3 linked regions of the Homo sapiens genome follow. The protein of the gene in region 3 purifies or fractionates together with the protein of the main gene of each other region. This does not show direct contact. Each region holds a gene or a part of one and is shown on either strand. Other genes may lie near its edges. The genes, in order: PC, MLF1 and TSHR.

The links.
Region 1: the proteins of TSHR (region 3) and PC purify together in Homo sapiens (affinity purification with mass spectrometry; 2 studies listed by BioGRID and IntAct, with this or other methods). This does not show direct contact.
Region 2: the proteins of TSHR (region 3) and MLF1 purify together in Homo sapiens (affinity purification with mass spectrometry; 2 studies listed by BioGRID and IntAct, with this or other methods). This does not show direct contact.

The regions. Positions count from the first base shown.
Region 1 is NC_000011.10:66,951,839-66,955,491, forward strand, and holds part of PC (pyruvate carboxylase, mitochondrial precursor), read right to left. Parts: intron 2,599-3,653; 5' UTR 2,411-2,598; intron 631-2,410; 5' UTR 592-630; intron 1-591. UniProt on the Homo sapiens protein: Pyruvate carboxylase catalyzes a 2-step reaction, involving the ATP-dependent carboxylation of the covalently attached biotin in the first step and the transfer of the carboxyl group to pyruvate in the second.
Region 2 is NC_000003.12:158,588,041-158,591,693, forward strand, and holds part of MLF1 (myeloid leukemia factor 1), read left to right. Parts: intron 1-811; coding exon of another isoform or gene 812-884; intron 885-3,653. UniProt on the Homo sapiens protein: Involved in lineage commitment of primary hemopoietic progenitors by restricting erythroid formation and enhancing myeloid formation.
Region 3 is NC_000014.9:81,133,471-81,137,123, forward strand, and holds part of TSHR (thyrotropin receptor isoform 1 precursor), read left to right. Parts: intron 1-3,653. UniProt on the Homo sapiens protein: Receptor for the thyroid-stimulating hormone (TSH) or thyrotropin. Also acts as a receptor for the heterodimeric glycoprotein hormone (GPHA2:GPHB5) or thyrostimulin. The activity of this receptor is mediated by G proteins which activate adenylate cyclase.

The sequences.
Region 1 (3,653 bases), on a different chromosome or scaffold from region 3:
GAGCTTGCGCCACTGCACTCCAGCCTGGCAACAGAGCAAGACTCCGTCTCAAAAAAAAAAAAGAAAAAAAAAAACTTAGCCAGGTGTGGTGGCACATGCCTGTAAAATGTGCAGGGGAAGAAGGGCAGGTCCCTTTTTCCCCGTTGTTACCGTGACTGGCAAAGGTTGAGCGTCACCCTCTGGAAACCCGTGTCAAGTGACTTTACAACCAGCTGGCAGAACCACCTCACACCACAGCTGCCTGCTCTCCATGCTGACTCAAGGGGTCTTCTCAGAGACGGCCCAGCCCCAGGGATTCTTCCTGCCCAGCTTCCCAAGCTGACCATACCCTTCCAGAACCAGGGCCTTCTGCTGAGGCTGGCCAGCTGCCAAATGGGGCCAGCAGGGAGCCAGATGTCACTTTCCTGTAAAAATCAGGAGCAACTGGAAACAGACAAGACTGCTTAAACGGATATTATCCACAAATCAGAGCGCAGCCTTTTTTTATTGATTGAGCTTAAGACCTGACATGCCAAACTGCTGGCATCCACAGCTGCTCCTGGTGAAGACCCCCATGCATCCCGCCAGCCTGGATTCAGGCACAGGACTTACCCTTAGTGTTTGGTCAGCTCTCCAGAAGGCAGACACTATCTAAAGCAAAAGAAAAAACAGCATTACCCTCATTGCTCCAGGAACTTCCCAGAGAAAACAGGAGTGGCAAGAACACCGATTTTAGAACCCAGAGAACTTTTTCAGTCTTGTTACCCGGGCTGGAGTGCAATGGCGCAATCCCGGCTCACTGCAACCTCTGCTTCCCGGATTCAAGCGATTCTCCTGCCTCAGCCTCCTGAGGTAGTTGGGATTACAGGCATGTGCCACCACGCCCAGCTAATTTGGTATTTTTAGTAGAGATGGGGGTTTCTCCATGTTGGTCAGGCTGGTCTCGAACTCCCGACCTCAGGTGATCCACCCACCTCGGCCTCCCAAAGTGCTGGGATTACAGGTGTGAGCCACCGCACCCGGCCAAGAACTGTTTCTTTGCTTCCACTGAGGGCACCAGGAGGGTACAGAGCTGGAAGCGCCAGCTGTGCTGTCCCACTGCCTGGACTGCACCTCTTGTTACTCTGACAGCCGCTCTGTAATCACTCAAAGTCTGTTTCCTCATCTGTAAAATGGGAATAATAACAATGCCCATCTCACAGCGTACTAGGGAATACCCAATGAGGCAGCACACGCACAGCAGTGGCACCATGCCTGGCACAGAGGACACACTGGGACGTTAACCGACAGGCTAGGTGGGAAGCGCTTAAGTAAAACCCTTTTCTGCCACCCACTACACATGAACAAGAAGTTCTAGAAACAGTTCGTTTTATCTGAAGTGCTTTCTCTTCCTGCCCACTCCGTCCAGCCTCAGGCCCGCTTTCTCTGCATCTCCGCAGAGCTGTCTCTAATCCTTCAGGAGCTCCCTCTGAATACTGGGAGTCTGGTTCTTCTCTCACTCCACAACTTGAAACTAATAAGGAGCTGTCTTACGTGACCTGAGATGTGTACTCTATTTCCTGGCTATTTCCTCAAATCCTTTCCTGCAGAGACCCCTCTCTGCCATAAGTAAGAGCCCACCTCGTGTTTATGCCCATGGGAGCCCACAGTTGGTATTGTGTAATCACTTTTCGGAGTTTTATTGACTGCTTATTTCCGAAAAAGCCACACCTACCCTAGCCACTAGTCAATGAACAGCAAAATGGAAAAACAGGCCAGCAAGCTCAAATCCCTGTTCAGAGAAAACCAGCTGCCTTGACAGATAACGTCAAGGCTGAAATTCAATGTCTGGGGCACTCAAGTCAATAAAATATTTATTGAGCACATGCCTTGCACAAGGAACTGTATGTACACTCAGGCCCTGCCCACAAAGTGCCAAAAAGCAAGTTGTTAGGGGCTGGTTAAAAGAAGCAAAAATGGGATGGCACGTGAGAGGGACTCCAGCAGTGAGCCACCTAGCCTGCCTGGCTGTGTTACTCTGGGCGTTATTTCACCTCTCTGAGTTTCACCTATGAGAGTCCGTCATTTGTAAGAGATGGATCTAATAGGACCTTCGTAATAGGATTGTTGTGATAATCACATTATGTGTATGTAAGGGGCTTAGCAAGGCCGTCACCACCACACAGTAGTTGACTTTTATTATTAATAACAATAAATCATTACTTATCATCATCGTTATGAAAAGAGAGCCCAGTCCAACTGAATAGATTTGGCAAGCCTTAATAAAGTCCTGTGTCTCGAAGAATAATTTAATTTTGACAGGACAAGATAAGAAGCAAGGCCCTGCAGAAAACAAAGTCAACAAGAACAAGAGCAGAGGGGGGACCGTGAGAAGTGAGTTTGGGGTAACAGTGACTAATCTCACTATGGGGGCTGACACAGAAGAGGGTACCTGCGGAGGCAAATGGAAGAAAGAGCCCAACAGGTGGAATCATATTAGAGAGTCTTGAACGCCAAGATGAAGCAAGCTTTTCATTCGGTAAGTAAGAGGAAATGGTTTATTCTTTTGGCCATTTCCCATCTTCCACCGTCAGGCCCGACTCCTTTGGCAAAGTGTCCACAGGTGAGACTAGAAGGCAGCTAAGAGAAAGAGAGGAAGGCACGGTCAGTCAGGCCCAGGTGAGGTTTCAGAGTGAGCAGGCAAAATGCCCTGCTGCTGTGAAGGAGGCCTCTGGGTGAGAAACCTGCCCCAAAGCAGGAACTTTCAGGATACAAGAAACGGGGCCCATTCAGATGGGGGCAGGACGATATTGGGAGGCAGCCAAAGAGAAGGCCATGCTCATCCTCAATGAAAATGTTGACCAGAGGCCGGGTGCAGTGGCTCACGCCTGTAATCCCAGCACTTTGGGAGGCCAAGGCAGGTGATCACCTGAAGTCAGGAGTTCGAGACCAGCCTGCCCAACATAGTGAAACCCCATCTCTACTAAAGATACAAAAATTAGCCAGGCAAAGGGTTGGTGCCTGTAATCCCAGCTACTCAGGAGGCTGAGGCAGGAGAATCACTTGAATCCGGGAGGCAGAGGCTGCAGTGAGCCAAGATGGTGCCACTGTACTGCAGCCTGGGCAACAAAACAAGACTCCGTCTCCAAAAAAAAAAAAACACAGAAAACGTTGACCTGAACGAGGCCTCCAGCCCATGCAGAAGGTGCCAGTGAGAAATGTGGATTGCCAGATTTACTGCCATACTGACCTTGGTGCTGGCCATCCCTGCCACCTCCAAAAGTAACTCCTTTCCGTATTCCCCATCTTGCACCCTTCTCTCCTCACTGGTTCCCAGTTTGACCCCTTTTCAACTAATTCACCCAAAACACTCATTAGGCACCTACTTGTTCCTGGCACTATTAGGTACTGAGAGGACAGAGGGAAGAGGGACACAGGGAACTGTGGCTTGGGATAAGAGTAGTGAATCTGAGGTCCTGCCCTGCCACTGGTCCCAGAGCCCCCATGAGTGGTGGTGGGAGGACAGGTACCTATCACAGTGCCTGGGGCACTGGAAGTGAGACCGGGTGAAAGCAAGGAGCAGGACAAAAAAGGGAAAAGGGCCTGGGGGACCTACTGTGGGCTACCAGGGACAACCTTCTAGGGGAGATCTTGGAGGTGAGGACTGGCACAGGGAACCGAGTCAGCCAGGCTGC
Region 2 (3,653 bases), on a different chromosome or scaffold from region 3:
GTCTTAGGTGTTCTCTCACACATGATGGCTTACTTCGGGGAAAGAGCTACCATGATGTAAAGCAGCACTGTGGAGAGGTCCACCTGAATGAGCTTAGAAGCAGATTTTTGAGACTAGCCAATAGCTGTGTGAAGGAACTTGGAAGTGGATTCTCCACCAGTCAAGACTTGAGATGACTAAAGCCTCAACTGATAACTTCATTGCAGCCTACAGAGAGGCCCTGAGTCAGAACTACCCACCTAAACTGCTCCTGATTCCTAATCAACAGAAATTGTGACATAACAAATGTTGTTTTAAGCTGCTAAGTTACAACAGCAATAGATAACTAATACATGTTATGTCAGAATAACACATTGATTGAGACCATCCTGGCTAACACGGTGAAACCCCGTCTCTACTAAGTACAAAAAATTAGCTGGGTGTGGTGGCTGGTGCCTGTAGTCCCAGCTACTCGGGGGGCTGAGGCAGGAGAATGGCGTGAACCCAGGAGGCGGAGCTTGCAGTGAGCCGAGATCGCGCCACTGCACTCCAGCCTGGGCAAGAGAGCGAGACTCCGTCTCAAAAAAAAAAAAAAAAAAAAAAAAGCAGAAAAAAACTGCCCTCATTCTAAGTCATCAGTTTTGTTGCTTTCATCTAAAGACAGGAAAATGAACTACAAATCTACAAAAAGTTTATACGTGTGTTTCTGCATCATAAAAAACAGATATTTATAGATATTCGCAAAATTTTGAGACCACATTCAGGATGGCCTCAATTAAGACATAAGCTTCTATGGCATAAACAAACCTCATTTGAGGATGTTGTTTCTCAGACATACAGGTGGTCTTACTCTGCAGCAGCTGAAACTGAAGCACAAGAAGCCCTTGGAACTATCATCAGGACATGTAAGTCCCATGTACTAAAATACTTGGGCCAGAGAAAACCAAGTATAGTTTAAATAGGAGTTTCCCCTCCCCTAAAATCCAAAGTCACTAAGGAGGAACTTCAAGACTGCAGGCATTGGTTGCAGTGGAGATTTTTCTCTGTGTAGCAAGCACCAAGGTGAGCAGAGCCTTTAATTAAGAATAGTTAGTAATTTTGCCAAGAAATGGTAGGGGGACCATCTGATATATAGGATGGTTCAAATTCCATAAACATTATTTATTTATTTATTTATTTTGAATTTTTGTATTTTTTTTTATTTTATTTTGAGACGGAGTCTCACCCTATTGCCTAGGCTGGAGTGCAATGGCATGATCTTGGCTCATCACAACCTCCACTTCCCGGGTTTAAGTGATTCTCCTGCCTCAGCCTCCAGAGTAGCTGGGATTACAGGCACCTACCACCACACCCAGCTAATTTTTGTACTTTTAGTAGAAACGGGGTTTCACCATGTTGGCCAGGCTCTTCTCAAGCTCTTGACTTCGTGATCCACCCACCTCGGCCTCCCAAAGTGCTGGGATTACAGGCATGAGCCACCGCGCCCAGCCCTCCATAAACATTTATAATGTATACTGTGTGTCAAGCACAGAGGTTGGTAATATGAATGAATAAAGATACAGTTCCTACTCTAGAAGAACTTATACTCTAAAAGAGGAGTGAGACTTTTGTATATTTTAAAATTAAAATTAAAAAACTTGTATTAGTTTCCTATTGCTTCTATAACAAATTACCACATATTTAGAGACTTAAAACAACAAATCATCTTATGGTGGAGATCAGAAGTCCAAAATGGGTTTCCCTGGGCTAAAATCAAGGTGTTGGCAGGGCTACATTCCTTCTGGAGTTTATGGGGGTGAATCTGTTTCCTTGTCTTTTCTAGCGTCTAGATACTGCTGTGTTCCTTGGCTTCTGGCCTCTTCCTCCATTTTTAAAGCCAGCAGTGTAGCATCTTCTGATTATGACACTACTATCTCCTTCTCATAAGGACCCTTGTGATTACATTGGGCCCACTGGGATAATCCAGGATAATCTTCCCATCTCAAAATCCTTATACACATTAGCAAAATGTGGTAAAAACTGAAGACCTAACAAAGATTCATGGTTGTGTGGCTGAATATATTCATGTTAAGAGAATGAAAAAGGCAAGTCCAAGACTGGGAAAAAATTTAAAACCTGTATCTGATAAAAGTCTGTGTCCAGAATATATAAAGAACTCTTATAACCTGATTTTTAAAAATGGGGGAAGTATTTGAAAAGACGGTTCTATCAAAGAACATACATGAATGACAAATAATACAAAATAAAACTACAATGAGATGTTATGACCCTACCACTCAAATGGCTACAGTTAAACATTGACTATCCTATATTTCACCAAGAATGCAGTGCAACTGGAACTCTCAGTTACAGTTTTCATAAAATTTACATACTCTTCTAATACAAGCCATCAGTCCTTGCTCTGAGGTGTTTACTTAAGTCAAATTATGTATACACAAAGACTAGTACATAAATATTCATAGTAGCTTTATTCATAATAGCCAAAAACTAAAAACAGTTTTGTGATTATGATACTGATATATGTATGAACTTAGCAATAAAACTGAATGAACTGAAATAGAGAACAACATGGATGAATCAAAGAAGCATTATGCTAAGGGAAAGAAGCTAGACACAAAAGATGACATACTATGTGATTCCATTATATGAAATCTGGAGAAGACCAAACTATAATGACAGAAAGCCTATTCATGGTAACTAGGGCTAGGAGCAGGTAATTATCTGCAAAGAGACGAGGAAGCTTTTTGGAATGATAGAAATGTTCTACATCTTAATTATGGTGGAGGTTATGACTGCACTTTTTAAAATTCATCAAACTGTACAACAAAATTGGTAAATTTCGTTGAATGTAAATTATGCCTAAACAAGGCTGAATGAAAACATCTGTCTATACATACAAGCACAAATCCAGTTAAGCAGTTTGCTAATCTTAAACTCACACTTGGAACAATTATGCTTTTTTTAACCTCCAAGGTAATGTGTGAATAAATCTGAGCTCTTTTGGAATAGGTTTATGTATACAAATACTATGAAATTCAGAGGAAAAGCTCTTTCTACTTGGACTTATGAGCAGAAGACAGAATTTTTGAGCTTCCTCCTTTGAGCTTCCTCCTTTGAGCTGGAGTTGCAAGGAAAATTTCTTTTTTTTTTTTTTTTTTGAGACAGAGTCTGGCTCTGTCACCCCGTCTGGAGTGCAATGGTGCAATCTTGGCTCACTGCAACTTCTGCCTCCCGGGTTCAAGCAATTCTCCTGCCTCAGCCTCCGGAGTAGCTGGGATTATAGGCGTACGTCACCACACCCGGCTAATTTTTGTATTTTTAGTAGAGATGGGGTTTTACCATGTTGGCCAGGCTGGTCTTGAACTCCCGACCTCAAGCAATCCACCTGACTCAGCCTCCCAAAGTGCGGGGATTACAGGCATGAGGCACCACGCCTGGCCAAGAAAAAATTTTAAAAACTTTCTAGCTTCTTTATGATGACATCAGAGGATTGGAATTAGAAGGGGGAAGGGTGACCTAAGAAGAATAACTGAAGTGGAGAATCTGAAAGGAGGCCAGACTATTGGAGAGGGAGTTCCACTGGGCTGCAGGAAAGCATAAGATTGCCTTGGTAAAGTGAGCTCCAATCATGGTGTACCTTAAGTTCTAGAACGAGGAATAAGGAATTGATTAGT
Region 3 (3,653 bases):
ACTGAAAACAGAAGGGTTAACTGAAAGTTTATATCTGGAAGCATTAATCCTGTACTCTATTTATGCAAAATTCCAACAGCCAAGTACCTCCCCACTAAGCTGAAGAGGTTGAGAAATCCTAAAACAAAAAAGACATTCACATTCTGGCACTTTAGGGTCTACCAACATAATGGCCAGCTCCCTAAACAATTACCCTAAAGCAAAGTCTGCCAACAGAAAAGCACCCTCTTAAATACGAATGTGTGCAACCAGAGATCTCCAGTCAAAGAATGCTCCTAACATGGAAGATCAAAACCAAGATACACAAATGGCGGGGAAATGAGCCTGGAGAAATCAAAGAAATCACAGAAAAGAGAAAGGAACCTTTAACAAAGCAATAATTAAGGACCTGAGATAAATCTGAGAACACATTTCATCCCTATCACTATAACAATCATGATAATAATAATAAAAATAATAGCTAATATTTATTGAGAACACACTAAGAGCTACTGTTCAACAAACTCAAGACAAGGAAACTGCAGCACACAAAGTTTCAGTGACTGATAGTAAGCACAGAAGCCAGGGTTTAAGTCCAGATAGTGTGAATTTAAAACCCATGTTCCTAAACAAAGGGGTATGCTTTCTCAAATATGCTGGTTTTATTTCATTTTATTTTTTATTCTTTTTTATTTTTTATTTTTAGAAGGAGTTTCGCTCTTGTTGCCCAGGCTGGAGTGCAATGGTGCAATCTCGGCTCACCACGACCTCCACTTCCCGGGTTCAAGCGATTTTCTCCTGCCTCAGCCTCCCGAGTAGCTAGGATTACAGGCATGTGCCACCATGCCCGGCTAATTTTGAATTTTTAGTAGATACTGGTTTCTCCATGTTGGTCAGGCTGGTCTCAAACTCCCAACCTCAGGTGATCCACCCGCCTCAGCCTCCCAAAGTGCTGCGATTACAGATGTGAGCCACCGCACCCAACCAAATACGCTGTTTTTAAAAGGAACAGAACACAAGAAAGTGCTCTTAAAAAATCTATTCAGGTATTTAACAAGTATGTGTTTAGAGTCTTCTGTTGGCTAAACACCAGTCTAGGTACCAAAAATACGGCAATAAACAGAACAGGCAGTATTTCAGCTCTCATGAAGCTAAAATTAAAAATTTAGTAGAAGAGATGGAAGATGCACTCAAGGAATTTTACCAGGCAATTTAATAAAAGTAATAGGAGAAAATTCCAAGAAAAAATGGAGATATGTCTGATGGACCAGGAGGTGCCTTTTCCTCTTATTAAGAATTCCAGAGACAAAACAGATAAAATGAGAATAAGTTATCCCATAAACAATACAAGAAAATTTCCTAGCAGTGAAGAACAAAGGTCTTCAGATTGAAGGGGCCTGTCTTCCCCCAGTGCCCATTATAATAAATGGAAAAAGATTCCTATCAAGGTACACCTTCATGAAATGTCACACCAGGGATAAAGAGAAGGTCTGAGAAGCTTCCAGAAGTAATAACAAGTCAATGACCAAAGAATAAGAATTTGAATGGGGTCATACTTACCAAAAGCATCAATGGGTGCTAGAATATGATAAAGCCTTTAAAATTCTGAAGAAAGGCGATTTGCAACCTTAAATTTTATAGCCAGCTAAAGTACCAATTGAATATAAGGGTAGAAAAAAATAAGGTCATTTTCAGACATGCAAAGACTCAGAAAATATCTCCTTCACACAGCCTAAGAAATTACTTGAAAATGTGCTCTAGGAGAGAAAATCAAGAAAAAAGATGACACAAGATTCAGAAAGAGACTCCCACTGGGGAGAGGGGAAATAGTCTCCTAAGAAGCTTGAACTTCATTCTGTAGATATTAAAGGAGGCATGGATTTCAAGCTGGAAAGCAATATAAGATCTGTGTTTTAGAAAGGACATTCTTTCCTAAGTCTTTCCTAATGTCCTTTAGAAAAAACATTCTTTCCTAAGTTCCTAAAATCAGAATAGTGGAAGATTTCTGAGACCAGTCACAAAGTTTTTGCAAAACTCAGGTGAAATGTAGTTCAGACCTAAACTAAGGTGGTAGCAATGAGAACCATGAAATTGTAGATGTGCAACAGCTGGGCTCACATCTGATTGGGGTGGGGGGTTCTTAGCACAATTTCATGTTGTTGTAAATATTCACGGCATGAACGTAGGGCAAGGGCAAGAGAGACTCCACAAGGACATCGAAGCTTCAAGCCCTGGAAAGTGGTAGATGGAAGACAAGAAATAAAGACATTCCAGTAAGCTTCAAGGCAAGAATCATTCTATTTGAGATATTTTGAGTGGAGAGGCAGTGCTAGATCCATAGAGAAGTACAGAGGAGCTCCTACCTTTCTGTCTGATAGCAACCAGACTGTCTGATTAAAACTGCAGATCACTGCAAGGGTGGTTAAATCAAAAAAGAAAAAAGGCAGTTGTTCCCCCTGCTTGACCCTGAAAGTGCAGAGATAGTGTGGGTGGACTGCACAGGAACACTTAAGGTGCAGCATGCCTAATGGATACTTAGAACGATGACAAGTGAGGATTAAGATGTCTTCAAGTATAATAGATTCTAATTTTGTCTGTAAGTGGCCTTAGAGCTCTGAGATGAGACTACAGAGGTAGTCCAGTGCTAGATCTGCAAGACCTTAAAGGGCATGGTAGGAAGCGTGGATGTTATTCATGGTACGTTGAGAAGTCACTGTAGGCCTTTAGGCAGGAAAGTGACATTACTCAATTCATATGTTATGATTACTCTGGCTACTATGTGAGGAATGGATTGAAAAAGAATAAAAGTGGACAGGAAAGATATTTCAGTAAGAGATAATGTTAGCTTGGACTAGAAAGCTTACACTGGAGATGCAAATACGTGGATTTGAGATTCCTTTGGAGTTCAGAATCATAGGTGTTTTGCAAGATTAAATGTGGATGGGACAATGGTCTTGAGGAAATCCAACATTCCTCAAGGTTACTAATTTGAGCAATCAAGTGGATGAGAGTGTCAATTACCATGTTGGGGGGAAATAGAGGAGGAGCAGGTTGAGCTAAGGGCAAAGGATGAAAAGATAAGTTTTGAAAGGCCCTATTAAGTTGGAGACGCCTGTGAGGCATCCAGGTGGAGATATCAAATAAGCAGTTGGATATACAAGTTGAGGTCTGGACTGGAGCTGTATTTGCCAACTTCATTGCTTTTGGCTTCAGCTCAGATAAACTTCAAATTGGGACAAGGAGGAAATTAACAATTATTGAGCACCTACCATATGCCAAGCACCCACATTTCCCAACATCTACTTTCTCCTTGCCTGCCCAAGCACCCTCCCAGTTCAGCCCGAGTGGGACCTAACTTAGAGGCCACCTGGGATATGTCATTACATATACTCAGACAAACTTTGGAATCTTCCCTCCCAGATTCCTAATGAGTCCATGGAGACTTACTGCACCTGGATCTGTGTTCAAAGACTCCAAAGACCTGAAAGTGAAGACTAGCTCCTGGGACACTGAAGCTGAGAACTCCAGACCCAAATGATACTTATGACTCCACCCTTGGTTCACTGTATCTTTTTGGACACAACATCCCTTATTTCTTTGTCTGAATTTTAGTATCTGCCCGCTTCATAAAAATGCTTTGAGAATTGAAACCAGCTTCTGAATCACCTGGAGAG